4 linked regions of the Homo sapiens genome follow. The protein of the gene in region 3 purifies or fractionates together with the protein of the main gene of each other region. This does not show direct contact. Each region holds a gene or a part of one and is shown on either strand. Other genes may lie near its edges.

Region 1 (3,500 bases), on a different chromosome or scaffold from region 3:
ACTGACCTTGCGGGAAGATGTGAGTGGCCTAGACTTTCTAATCCTTGACAAACATCAACACCACCAACTCCATTCCAGCAAGACTGCCAGGAAGACATGAAAATAAAGAAGCTAAACAATGCAAAATCCCAAGTGATATCAAGAGTCTACATATGTTTATTCAAATAACAAAATACTTGACCATCTCAACAATAATGTTCAGGAATGAGAGAGGAACAAAATCAAGAAAATATTACTAAGCTATTCATAATGAAAGGATTGGATAAAAAGATATTCTCCTAAATTTATACTACTACATAAAAACAAAGTTTCATTTGTCTCGACTTGTCAAATCTTTAGGATGAAATAAACCAATATCACCGCTGACAAATATAATAACTATGGTAAACAGGCATGCCAAAATCAATGCAGAGTTTCAGAAAAGGTCAAGAAACCAACCGTCAGCTTAAATTGGTTAATTTCATTAAAACTGTTAAACATGACAGGATGTCGCTAACTCCCAGGTTCTTTTATATGAGCAAAGTTGGATTAATTTGACCCAAATTTTGTATAATAGCTTTTCCAATTTCCAAAAATACATCAACTTTGTCACTGATCTTACAAATTCTGCTTTCCTTCTCTAGCTCTATCTCAAAAGAAGCTTCTCGAAGGCCATAAATCTTGACATAGTGAAAGCAAAATAATCACAGCACTCAACAGTGCCGTTAACATTTCTGAGCCGTGAGGGATTAAGCAGGCAGATGCTATGGAAAGTGCCTGTCAGGAAAGGACAGCCCAGAGTTCAGAACGCACCGCAGCTGCGAAGGATTGAAGCTGCTAGCTATGGAATCAAGCTCAGGAGAAACTCTGGGCACAATTCCGGCATCCGAAATAAATTAAAGTAAACAGTGTTGCTCTCTCTCTCATCCACCCTGTTAGCAGCCTCTCGGCTGAGCGGGAGACCACACACTCGGACCACACAGCGCCAGCTGAACTCCCTCGCACGCAACATCTACAAGCTGTCACTCTGCAGCAGCCCAGAGAGGGAGAAGGATGAGGTTAGGGAGGGGGAGACAGGACCGCAGGAAGAGGGGGAGGGGAGACAGGAGAGTCTTCCCTATGTGCAGCTGGAGAGAGTGATGTGTGGTTTAGAGAAGGGGGAGGGGTGGAATCCATAAACCTCCCTGAGAAAACAAGCTGGTCATGGCCTTGTGTAGTCTTGACCTGTACTCCCCCATACCAATTTAGTAGCTGATGAAGGATTAACAAAGCATCCATTTAACATCAATTAACCTCCTATCCATCACAGGTCAAAAGAGAAAATTACTATTACAAAAGCATTTCACTAAAATCAAGACAAAAGGCCACATTTTCTTACAATTTATACTGTACACTTAAGTAAATACATTTTCCTTATAGATATACTATATTAATTTTAAACCATCTGCCTCTTTTCCTTTAATGAAGCATACAGGGATGGATTTAAAGTGTTTTCTGCAACAGAAGTCAGAAAATTTTAATTCTATAATTTTCCCATATTTAATTTCTCAAATTAAAACTGTGGCACAATTTTAATTTTCCAAAATATTTACTACTAGAAAAAAAGACAGTAAGTTGTCATTTTTCACAGAACTTCAGACTAAAAATACACAGAAAAAGTTAGCAGTAATAATATAAAGAAAAAAATCAGAAATGAAACCACAACTGAAAGTAGTTTTAGAATCATAAAAGCAGTACTTTTTACTATTTAGTAATGAAGAGTTTCGCTGATTTCAACAGCAGACAAGAAATCTGAACAAAATGAGTGATCACGGTCTCACCTTGTCATGCTCCCAGATGTTCTTCTCAGCTAGAGAAGGCCAGGAACCAGAAAAATACAGAAGTTCTGACTCACTGAAGACTAGGATAACCTCTACTCAACAGGCCACGGAAGGCCTCATGATGTGAAAACACTATTTCGCTAACAGATCAGACTATAGAAAGGTGATTTTCCCCACAATCATTTGAAAACACACACACACACACACACACACAACCCTCCCAAACGTCCACCCTTCCCCATATATGCCTCAACCTGGCAGCACTGGCATCACCAGGGAACAAATCAAGCAGAATCTCAGTAGCCTTAGCTGTCCAGAACCACTTTGGGTCCAGAGGACCCCAGAAGAATCCTGTTGCAGAGCTGCCTAGTGAGTTTCAACAGTAAAATTAGGCTCAGCCAACTCTCAGGGCACCATAAAATATAATCAAAGTAGAGAATTCACCAAATCTTTCTAGAGTCAGGCCCAACCTAACCTAAGACAGACTTGTCCCTGCTGGGCTGGGTTGGGCTGGACCCAAAGGGATTGCCCAGAGATATTGGGGAAAGGGTTCGGGAAAATGGTGATTTTCTTCCCCAGTTCTCTATAAACACAGACTCCACACTTCCTGAGTGAGATCAAGTGCAAGTTACATTAGCACTGCCACAAATTCTACCATATAACAGCACACAGTGGGACAAGTCTCAGAGACAGGGTCATGAACTCTGTAATCCAGTTTTCCAAATTAATCCTCTTGCTCCTCCTGCTCCATCCCCAAATCATAGTTAACAAAAATACAAGCATGCACAGATCTGAAAGAACTCATAGGGGCCAAATTGTATAGAGTTACGGCCTGATAAGGGCAGAAGACTCGCTGGGTCTCAGAAGGGCCATTTGCAGAAGGGGAGGACTGAACAGGTAAGAAGTAATGTATCCTGCTTTCCTGGACCTCTTTTTTTTTTTTTTTTTTTTTTTTGAGACGGAGTCTTGCTCTGTCGCCAGGTTGGACTGAACAGGTAAGAAGTAATGTATTAATGTATCCTGCTTTCCTGGACCTCTTTTTTTTTTTTTTGAGACGGAGTTTTACTCTGTCACTAGGCTGAAGTGCAGTGGGGCTCACTGCAACCTCCGACTCCTTGGTTCAAGCGATTCTCCTGCCTCAGCCTCCCAAGTAGCTGGGATTACAGGCATGCGCCACCATGCCCAGCTAATTTTTTTGTATTTTTAGTAGAGACGGGGTTTCATCATATTGGCCAGGATGGTCTCAAACTCCTGACCTCATGATTCGCCCTCCTCGGCCTCCCAAAGTGCTGGGATTACAGGTGTGAGCCGCCGCGCCCGGCCTCCTGGACCTCTTTTTATACTTCTTTTCCTTCTCTACCTCTACAAACAAAAAAATACATGAACTACTATCTATGGTTTCAAATGAAAGCATATTTGTTTATATTTTAATTCTTTTGGGAAAATAATCCAATAATTTAAACCATATAACTGATAAATGACACTTGATTTTTATTTATTTATTTTAGGAATGGGAATAAAGGCCTTCCCTCCCTCTACAATGTTTGGAGGTGAGAGATTAAGGGGACGAGAATGTGCATGAGATGACTAGGAAGGAATACTGGAAGCCAGACAAGTATATAGGGAATGCCTGACAACTTAGCTCTCAGAGCCCCCATAAAAGAGATCTGTTATATATATACCGGATTACTCAGCTGTTCT
Region 2 (3,281 bases), on a different chromosome or scaffold from region 3:
GTTCGGGGCTACAGTGAGCTGTGATGGTGCCACTGTACTCCAGCCTGGGCGACAGAGTGAGACCCTATCTCAAAACAAAAACAAAAACAACCTCCTTCCTCAGCAGAAACAAAAAATGTGCAACCTATGTCAGTCCCATTCCCCGCTTTTTTCCACACAGTCCCTCTTTACCCACTGATTTTACATCTGGGAAGAGGGGGGATGGGAGAGGAAGGAGCAGGGTCAGCACTGTTCTGGGCCTGGGGTGTCTAGGTGGGGAGCAGGGTCCTTGGGGCCACTGTGACCCTGGGTTCCTCATCTCCCCCCAGGCAGCCCAGCTGGAGGCACCCCGGCCTCCCCGGCTCCGCTACCTGCTGGTAGTTTCTACACGAGAAGGAGAAGGTCTGAGCCAGGATGAGACGGTCCTCCTGGGCGTGGATTTCCCTGACAGCAGGTTCGAGCAGGGAGAGGAAAGGAGGGGCAAAGAGGTGAGGGACAGGGGGGACAATGGCTTTCCCTCTGTCCCCTGCCAGCTCCCCCAGCTGCACCCTGGGCCTGGTCTTGCCCCTCTGGAGTGACACCCAGGTGTACTTAGATGGAGACGGGTAAGCAATGGCAACTGGAGGTGGGGGCTGGAGGGTGGAATAACTGAGTGTGACGGATGTGACGGGGCCTGGGCACCAGGGTACAGTAGAACTTTAGGCTGGGACTCTGGGGCCTGCTCCCAGCTCCACGTCAGATTCACCGTGATCCTGAGCAAGGCACCTGACTCCTGGGTCTCGGCTTCCCGTATCCAGCAAAAGGATGGGTTCTCTGTCGCAGAGCCTGGAGTCTGGCCTCACCTGTGCCTGGTCTCCTGCAGGGGCTTCAGCGTGACGTCTGGTGGGCAAAGCCGGATCTTCAAGCCCATCTCCATCCAGACCATGTGGTAAGGACAGAGACTGCCTGGACTCAGGCCAGCCTCTCCTTCGAAGGAGGCTGCAGGGCCTGGGGAAGGGCAGCAAGGGAACAGTGTGACCCAGCCTCTCCTCCTGTCTCAGGGCCACACTCCAGGTATTGCACCAAGCATGTGAGGCAGCTCTAGGCAGCGGCCTTGTACCGGGTGGCAGTGCCCTCACCTGGGCCAGCCACTACCAGGAGAGACTGAACTCCGAACAGAGCTGCCTCAATGAGTGGACGGCTATGGCCGACCTGGAGTCTCTGCGGCCTCCCAGCGCCGAGCCTGGCGGGTCAGTGTGTGGAGGGGAGGGACTGGGTGGAGGGGAAGGCAGGATAATGCAGTGGGGGGCATGGTGGAGAGGGGAAAGGGCCCCTTGACTGAGGGGCTCTGCTCCCAGGTCCTCAGAACAGGAGCAGATGGAGCAGGCGATCCGTGCTGAGCTGTGGAAAGTGTTGGATGTCAGTGACCTGGAGAGTGTCACTTCCAAAGAGGTGGGCAGGGGGCCCGGGGACTGAGTCCCCTCTAGCAGGGGCTGCAAGCTTGCCTTTCCTGGGAGCCCTCCCCACCTTGCCTGTCTCCAGTCCTGAGCCATTCCTGGATGCCTTGGCCTTGGCCCTAATCCATCTAGATGGGATAGGGTGCTGTCCTCAGAGGTCCCAGAGGGAAGGTGGCAGGTTGGGCACTAGGAGAGCCCCAGCCTCTCTTGCCCTGGGCTCTGCCTGCAGATCCGCCAGGCTCTGGAGCTGCGCCTGGGGCTCCCCCTCCAGCAGTACCGTGACTTCATCGACAACCAGATGCTGCTGCTGGTGGCACAGCGGGACCGAGCCTCCCGCATCTTCCCCCACCTCTACCTGGTGAGCTTCAGCCAGGCCTGGGCCATGGGGACCGCTGGCAGCTGTGAGGGCGGCAGGCCAGGAGCAGAGGCTGGAGGAGAGGAGAAATGTGCTGTTCCCTCTCTCCCAGGGCTCAGAGTGGAACGCAGCAAACCTGGAGGAGCTGCAGAGGAACAGGTAGGGCTATGAGCCCCTCGGGCCACCCACCCCATCTTCCCTTCTCCTGGCCTCCCCGCATTGGGTGGTAGCCAGCTTCAAAAACCCCTGGACCACCCTCAGCAGCTGCTAGCTCTGCTTCTAACTCTGTCCTGGGGCTGTTGCCCTGGTGTGGGCTCCCAGGTGGGGACAGGAGACCTGCTGGCCAGCCCCCGCCCACTCTCCTCCCCCATCCACACTGTGAAACAAGGACAGAAACAAAGGGCCTCAGCCACGCCAAGACGAGAAGCAGCAGCGCATACTGCTGTAACTGCCTTGGACAAGCAGAAAAAGGCTCCTCTTGAATGCGCCTGTGGGCCCAGCTACTTGGGAGGCTGAGGCAGGAGGATCGCTTGAGCCCTGGAGATTGAGGCCGCAGTGAGCCGTGATCACGCCACTGCACTCCAGCCTGGGCAACAGAGAGAGACCCTGTCTCTAAAAAATAAGAAAAAAGAAAGAGAGAAAAAGCCTTTTCTCCACCTTGCCCTGTCTCAGGGAAGAAGGAACTGCCCTTCTCCCCGTGGGGACCTGGCTGCCTGCTCTGACAGGTACCTGTCATCTGCCCACCATGGGCTTCTGGGACCTGCTGTAGCCCCTGCCACCCACTGCTGCAGACCCACCCACTCTCAGCTTAGCTCAAAAGCTGTTCTCTAACTCATTTCTGAGAATAACTGAAGGGCTGGAGTTGCAGTTGGCCCAGCTGTCTGGACCAGATGGGGAAACAAGCCCAGCAGGGCAAGATGATTGGTCTAAGGTCGCAGCCAGGTGACAGCTGGGTCACTTCTCCTCCCACTGTCACTGCTGCCTCCATCTGACTTGAAACTCAGAGCTAAAGCGAGGCCCAGGGGCTGCCAGGTCCGATTGCCAGTGGGCCTGGTACCTCTGCCCACATCAGCCTGGCCTTGGGCCCTCTGGGACAGGGTCACCCACATCTTGAACATGGCCCGGGAGATTGACAACTTCTACCCTGAGCGCTTCACCTACCACAATGTGCGCCTCTGGGATGAGGAGTCGGCCCAGCTGCTGCCGCACTGGAAGGAGACGCACCGCTTCATTGAGGCTGCAAGGTCGGTCTCCTGGCTTTGCTGCCTGCCCCACTGTGGCTTCAAGCGGCCTCCGGTGCCCTCCTCCTGCCCACTCTGCCATCAGCTGTGCCATTCCTTCCAGCCCTCAGTGTCCTTCCCTCCTTCTCTACTCTCAGTTGGTTGTGAGCCCTTCACCTGCCCTCCCCTGCAGGAGGCGGGATCCTTCATGGTGAGGGGAGGGTGCTGAACCTGGCCTGCTTCCACAGAGCACAGGGCACCCACGTGCTGGTCCACTGCAAGATGGGCGTC
Region 3 (3,500 bases):
GCTCATGCCTGTAATTCCAGCACTTTGGAAGGCCGAGGCAGGTGGATCACTTGAGGTCAGGAGTTTGAGACCAGCCTGGCCAACACGGCAAAACCCCATCTCTACTAAAACTACAAAAATTAGCCGGGTGTGGTGACGCAAGCCTGTAATCCCAGCTACTTGGGAGGCTGAGGCAGAAGAATTGCTTAAACCTGGGAGGTGGAGATTGCAGTGAGCCGAGATCACGCCACTGCACTTCAGCCTGGGTGACAGAGTGAGACTCCATCTCAAAAAAAAAAAAAGGTGGGGGGGAGGATGAGAAAACTGGGAGATGATGGATATGTACCATTATCTTGATAGTTGTTTTACGCAAATGTCAAAACTCATCAAAGTGTATACATTAAATATGTGTAGGTTATCACACGTCAATTATATATCAGGAAAGCAATTTTTAAATATCTTCATTTCTGTGAAGACAATTCTTTTATCACTACTAGGAATGTTTCATGGGGTCAAGGAGGTCATAGAAACAAATAGAATGGAAGGGTGGTAGAATAGAAAGGGTGCTAATGTACATCAATGAAACTTCAATATGAAATATATAGGTCCAAAATGCTACTCAAGAAAAAAAACATTACGGCAATCACCTGTTTAAGCTTCCTGATTAGTTCTCGAAGTTGAGCTTCCACACGAAATGCAGAAAATAAGCACCTCCAATGAATCCAGTGTTTTTGGCACCATGAAGCTGGAGCTCCACTGCAAAACAAAAAACTGGTATCTTTAAAATATCTTCTCTAAGTAAAAGACAATCTAAAATTCTCATTTCTATTACAAAAGTGGAAACCCATAAACAACTGTCAGTTCCTTCAGGAGACCTGTCCAAGTACTAAAAAAGAATTTTAGGAAACTTGAAAAAAACATTTAAATTAATGAATGTGCCCCTGACTAAATTAAAAAATAATTTGTAAATGGATTTCTTTACTTATATATGCAATAACAAATATCCAATCATTTTTTAATCTAGGCTACCTATATAGAAGCAAAATTCTATAAGGTCATTTTCAGTAAAGGTTTGAGGAGAAAAGAAGAGAATCAATGTTATATAATAAATGCCTACTAAGCAATAGTCATCTGACATAGATAATTTCACTGAAATTCAAAATACCTTGAAGTCAATATCATCTTCACTGAACGTTAGTGTCACAAGCCACATCATAAGTACGTATTGGAACTATACATCAAATTGACATTTTTCAGGACAAAGGACTACCTTACATACCTTGATTTGCATTGTTCAAAGATGACAGCTAAAGTTGCAAAGTCATTAAATCCTCCAGCTTTAGCTGCCAATTCTCGATGTCTCTGTTCTGCTTCCTTCTGGTACTCTGGATCAACTAAAAGAATTGGAGAGGCAATTCAGTTATACTTTGCATTAAGTGCCTACAATCACTTTGCTTTCAGAAACTCATTAAAATCTGCCTCATCCTCTGGGGTGAAGTAAGGTAGAACTATATTAACTCTTCTTAACTTCTCTTAGGAAGCTCTATTTCTCCCACAATTCCTTTTTTTCTTTTCATATCACTTTGGAGATTTTACCTGAATAGCAACATTACTTCTCCCAATCTATTTGCCTTTTAAAAATAGTATTTGTAATTTACTTTTTAAATTAGTTTTGTTATAAGAGTAATCCATGCTTACAGAAAAAAAAATGTAATGGTATAAAAGAATATCATGTAAAAGTTCAATGTTCCCCAGTCACACTACCCATAAACCAATCCTCAAGACAAAGTACTGTTCATTATTTAGTGTGTGTCCTTCCAGGTAATTTCTATGTATATATAAGCATATGTACATAGTGTTTCATTTTTCTATAAATGGAATATATAATCTGAAAATTTGTTTATTTAATAACAACTCCATATCAGTACATATAGAATTATTCTTTCTCAAAAATAGCAATATAGGGCCAGGTGTGGTAGCTCACACCTGTAATCCCAGCAATTTCAAAGGCCAAGGCAAGTGGATCAATTGAGCCCAGGAGGTCAAGACAAGCCTAGGCAACAAAGCAAGATCCTGTCTCTACAAAATATACAAAAATTAGCCAGGCATGGTGATGCATGCCTGTAGTCCCAGCTACTCAGGAGGCTGAGGTGGGAAGATCGCTTGAGCCCAGGAGGTTTTTTTTTTTTTTTTTTTGAGACGGAGTCTCGCTCTATCGCCCAGACTGGAGTGTAGTGGCGCGATCTCGGCTCACTGCAAGCTCCGCCTCCCGGGTTCACACCATTCTCCTGCCTCAGCCTCCCGAGTAGCTGGGACTACAGGCGCCCGCCACCGCGCCCGGCTAATTTTTTGTATTTTTAGTAGAGACGGGGTTTCACATGTTAGCCAGGATGGTCTCGATCTCCTGACCTTGTGATCTGCCCGTCTCGGCCTCCCAAAGTGCTGGGATTACAGGCATAAGCCACCGTGCCCGGCCCAAGCCCAGGAGGTTGAGGCTACAGTGAGCCGTGATCGCATCACTGCACTTTGGCCTGGGCAACAGAGTGAAACCTTGTCTAAAGAAAAAAACAATGATATGGTATTCCCCAGGAGTATGGGGAACATAACACAATTTAACCAGTTCTTATTTATCCAATTCCCAATTATGGGCAATTAGACATGATCTCCATATATGCAGAACTGACCTACTACGAACATTTTCTTTTTTAATGTAATATTGAAGTATAATATGCATACAGAAAATTACACAGGACGTAAGTGTGTAGCTCATATAATATTCACAAACACAACATACCAATGTACCCAGATCAACAAACAGTATCACCAGCATCTCAACAGCCCCCTTTTATGCCCTCCTTCGAGTAACTACCCATTCCCTTCCACAAGAATAACTATATCCTGACTTCTAATCCTACAGATGGGTTTTGCCCATTTTTAACCTTTGTATAAATGAATCGTATAGTATGTACTTGATGTGTCTGTTTTCTCTTGCTCAACATTACGTTTTTGAGATTTATCTGTTAATTACTTCGATACCACTTCCCCTGATCCCATTCAGGACTCATGTGCTCTCTGATTGCCCAAATTCCCCATACAGCACTTTATCCAGGGCTAATCTTTCAGAGTGCCATTTTTTCAAAACTGCATAGGGATCCTTTCCTTCAATCTAACACGTCACATCACAATTCCTATTCCCTATACCTATCACAGCTAGATCTAGCAGAGGCACAATGTTGCCTGAATCCAGGGAGCAGCATTTACTATAGAATACGATGTGAATCTGCAAAGCAGCAGTTCCTGTTACTAGGAGGAAAGTAATTTGATTAAAGAAAACACTGATGAAGGTATAAAGTCTTCTATCCCATGCTTTAAGTAGCTTCCAACTATGTTACCTAGGTAGCAACTGAATGAAGCAGCTAGAGACAAAAAAATAAAAAAGAATATGATTTATCTCAGACCATACAAACATACAAATGACCCTGGTAAGGAAAAGATATAAATGATTATTAATCTCCATTTCT
Region 4 (3,500 bases), on a different chromosome or scaffold from region 3:
TGCAATGGCATGATATCGGCTCACCGCAACCTCTGCCTCCCGGGTTTAAGCGATTCTCCTGCCTCAGCTCCCTGAGTAGCTGGGATTACAGGTGCCTGCCACCATGCTTGGCTAATTTTGTATTTTTAGTAGAGATGGCGTTTCTCCATGTTCAAAAACAGAAAAGAAGGGCAAGATAGGAATATACATTACCTTTGTTATGGGTTGAACTGCACCCTCCCAAAATTCTTATAATGAACTACTAACCCCTAATACCTCAGAATGTGACCTTTTTTGGAAATAGGGTCATTGCAAGTGTAATTAATTAAGATTAGGTCATTAGGGTGGGCCCTAGTCCAGTGACTGATTTCCTTATAAAAAAGGAAAATTCAGCCGGGCACAGTCGCTCAGGCCTGTAATCCCAGCACTTTGGGAGGCCGAGGCGGTCAGATCGCTTGACCCCAGGAGTTCGAGACCAGCCTGGGCAACATGGCGAAACCCCATGTATATTTTTTCTCTACAAAAAACACAAAAATTAGCTGGGCGTGGTGGTGCACACCTGTAATCCCAGCTACTTGGGAGGCTGAGAATTGCTTGAGTCCAGAAGGAGGTTGCAGTGAGCAGAGATTGTGCCACTGCACTCCAACCTGGGTGACAGAGCAAGACTCTGTCTCAAAAAAAGGAAATTCAGACAATTCAGACACAGGCATACAGGGAGAACACCATGTGAATATGAAGGCAGAAATCAGGATGATACTTTTGCAAGCCATCACCAAAGATTGCCAGCATTCCATCAGGAGCTAGGGGAGATGAATGAATAGATTCTTCCCCACAGCCTCAGAAGGAACCAACCCTGCCAACACCTTGTGCTGGGACCTCCAGCCTCCAGAACCTTGAGACAATAAAGTTCTGGGGTTTTTTTTGTTTTTGTTTTTGTTTTGATTCGGAGTCTCGCTTTGTTGCCCAGGCTGGAGTGCAGTGGCGGGATTTTGGCTTACTGCAACCTCCACCTCCTGGGTTCAAGTGATTCTTCTGCCTCAGCCTCCCTAGTAGCTGGGACTACAGGTGCATGCCACCATGCCTGGCTAAATTTTTTTGTATTTTTAGTAGAGATGGGTTTCACCATATTGGCCAGGCTGGTCTCAAACTCCTGACCTCATGATCCATCCACCTCGGCCTCCCAAAGTGCTGGGACTACAGGCGTGAGCCACCGCGCCCAGCCAAGTTCTGTTGTTTAAGCCACCCAGTCTGTGGTACTTTGTTATGGCAGCCCTAATGAACTAATACGGGCTTTAAGCTATAAATCACTAAGGTTGGTTAAGTTAACAAATCATAACCCTCAAAAATGTTAACCCAACTTGAAAGAAGCTTTTGAAACTGTTTACAGTCCATTTCAGAAATAACAAAAATAGAAATAAATGCAATTATTAAACATATGTCATGTTAAATGACAATAAAGTTATTAAATAATAATTTATTTAAAAAGTATAACCAGTTTTCTTTGATATAAGTAACTGGGTCCCAAATGCTGGTAAAATGAGACAAGTAGGATCCTTCATTAATTTCTCATATCCATTTCCATCTGTTTTTTCTTTTTTTGTTGTTCCATGTGAAACTGAGAAAAAAAAATCTGCGTTTTCAACTTAAACAGTGGTCAACTTAATCTTACTTTTTTGGGAATTTGCTCGCACTCCAGTTTAATTTTCTCTTCTTGTGTTTCTTCAACTTCTGTATCTATTTCATCATCGATTCTGTAGCAAAAATATCAAATAACACAAAAGAGTTTTTTCAACCTGAAGTGTTCATACCACAGCGTTACAATTCACTGCTTTGGCTTGTCTTCAACTTACCCTCAAAGAAATTACAAATTCAAATTCTATACCAAATACTCCAGAAAATGTACAAAATTATGATGACCAATAAATGTCCATATATATTTATGAATAGCCTGTAAAATTTTAGATTATAAAGCCTTAATGTTCAAGTATTAGCAGCTATATAAATCATTCATTCATCCATCATTCCATTAATTCAACAACTACTAAGTACCCACCATGTACGAGGCTCCGGGCCTTAGGCCCTGGACTACAACAATGAAAAATACAGACCCTGTCACTGTGTTCTGAGAGCTTTCTATCTCCTTGGGAGAAAAAAATAAAGCTATTTCAATATGGTATGGTAAGTATAGGGGCATATATGGGGAACACAACCCAGACTTGGGGATCAGAGGCATTCAGAGCCTAAATGATACTTATGAGTTAGCCAAAAAAGAGGAAAGAGGAATGTGAGAGAGAAGGGTATTTTAGGCAGAATGCAGAGTGCCTTTTGAGATTAGGAGCGAGACAAACACATTTAAGTGTAAAGATGAAAAAGAAAAACTGTTTTCAGACTTACAGGACTGAGAAGTTGACCATGCATATATATAACAGTCTGAGACAATTACTTGAGGCTATTCCAGCAAAACTAAATATGAACCCAAGAGGGATGGGAAATATAAGAACATGGTGAACAAAGAAGACAATAAAATGTATAGATGTATCTGAATAATGGTTGATACTAGAAATATAGGGAGCTGAAGAAAATATTATCTTAGTAAGTGGTGACTATTGAACACAAGATTGGGAAAAGCTGTGAATTAAAATATGAGTTACACACCAGATAAAGGCAAGGAATTGGGGAATGTGTCCCATCTCAAGAGAACATGTTACAAAGGGAAAGCACTGACAGCACAAGGAGAATGTGAACAGTGGCTCCGTGGCTGTTCTTTCAAAGTTACAGGAGCTCAGGCTTCACAGCTTTGTCCAATTCAACAGTTTACACTGACTCAGAGCTCCAGAGTTACATCCATCAGATGAGGTACTAAGTTGTGAGCCTGCTACAGAAGCCACCATTACAAGAACCAAAAACCCCAATACTTGTGAATCTTTATAGCTATAGTTTCCAGTAATGAATCATCTCATGGAGTAGGAGGCAACCTCTCCTTAGGCAGAGGAATAATGACAATAATGACCTCAATAGCAGTAACAGCATCAGCCAACACTTGAATGATGCTTACTCTGTGCCAGATGCTGCTCCATACACGTAACACTTACCACAAACAACAGTGTTATGACATACATACTAAAAGCCCATTTTACGGATGAGAAAACAATCACAGAAAGGATATGTAACTTGTCACAGAGCTAATACATGGTGGAGCTGAGATCTGAGCCCCAGCAGGCAGGCAAAGCTCCCAAGTATGTGCCCTACAATCACACTGTTATTCAACACTGCCCATTCTAAATAGATGTCTACTTTCACTGTGAAGGTCTACAATACTCAGCACCCATATTAGACCTATGAGCAGGATAGGACAGAGGTGACCACCTCTTCTCTGTAAAACATGTTCTTTACTTAGCTTCAGAGATAGTGGGCTCTTCTAGTTTCTTCTTTCCACAGCTACTACTTCTCAGTCTCCTTTGTTGGTTCCTTATCTTCACAACTTTCAAAGTCAGTTCTCACCTCTTCTCTTCTTTGTCTAT

The links. Proteins that work in one complex are often made in the same cells at the same time.
Region 1: the proteins of DHX40 (region 3) and EXOC2 fractionate together in Homo sapiens (co-fractionation; one large-scale study listed by BioGRID). This does not show direct contact.
Region 2: the proteins of DHX40 (region 3) and SSH3 fractionate together in Homo sapiens (co-fractionation; one large-scale study listed by BioGRID). This does not show direct contact.
Region 4: the proteins of DHX40 (region 3) and ZC3H8 fractionate together in Homo sapiens (co-fractionation; one large-scale study listed by BioGRID). This does not show direct contact.

The regions. Positions count from the first base shown.
Region 1 is NC_000006.12:683,140-686,639, forward strand, and holds part of EXOC2 (exocyst complex component 2), read right to left. Parts: intron 1-3,500. UniProt on the Homo sapiens protein: Component of the exocyst complex involved in the docking of exocytic vesicles with fusion sites on the plasma membrane.
Region 2 is NC_000011.10:67,306,530-67,309,810, forward strand, and holds part of SSH3 (protein phosphatase Slingshot homolog 3), read left to right. Parts: intron 1-308; coding exon 309-433; intron 434-512; coding exon 513-584; intron 585-841; coding exon 842-907; intron 908-1,019; coding exon 1,020-1,208; intron 1,209-1,316; coding exon 1,317-1,410; intron 1,411-1,644; coding exon 1,645-1,773; intron 1,774-1,882; coding exon 1,883-1,929; intron 1,930-2,867; coding exon 2,868-3,014; intron 3,015-3,238; coding exon 3,239-3,281. UniProt on the Homo sapiens protein: Protein phosphatase which may play a role in the regulation of actin filament dynamics. Can dephosphorylate and activate the actin binding/depolymerizing factor cofilin, which subsequently binds to actin filaments and stimulates their disassembly.
Region 3 is NC_000017.11:59,596,610-59,600,109, reverse strand, and holds part of DHX40 (probable ATP-dependent RNA helicase DHX40), read right to left. Parts: intron 1,374-3,500; coding exon 1,259-1,373; intron 736-1,258; coding exon 627-735; intron 1-626. UniProt on the Homo sapiens protein: Probable ATP-dependent RNA helicase.
Region 4 is NC_000002.12:112,248,543-112,252,042, forward strand, and holds part of ZC3H8 (zinc finger CCCH domain-containing protein 8), read right to left. Parts: intron 1,731-3,500; coding exon 1,649-1,730; intron 1-1,648.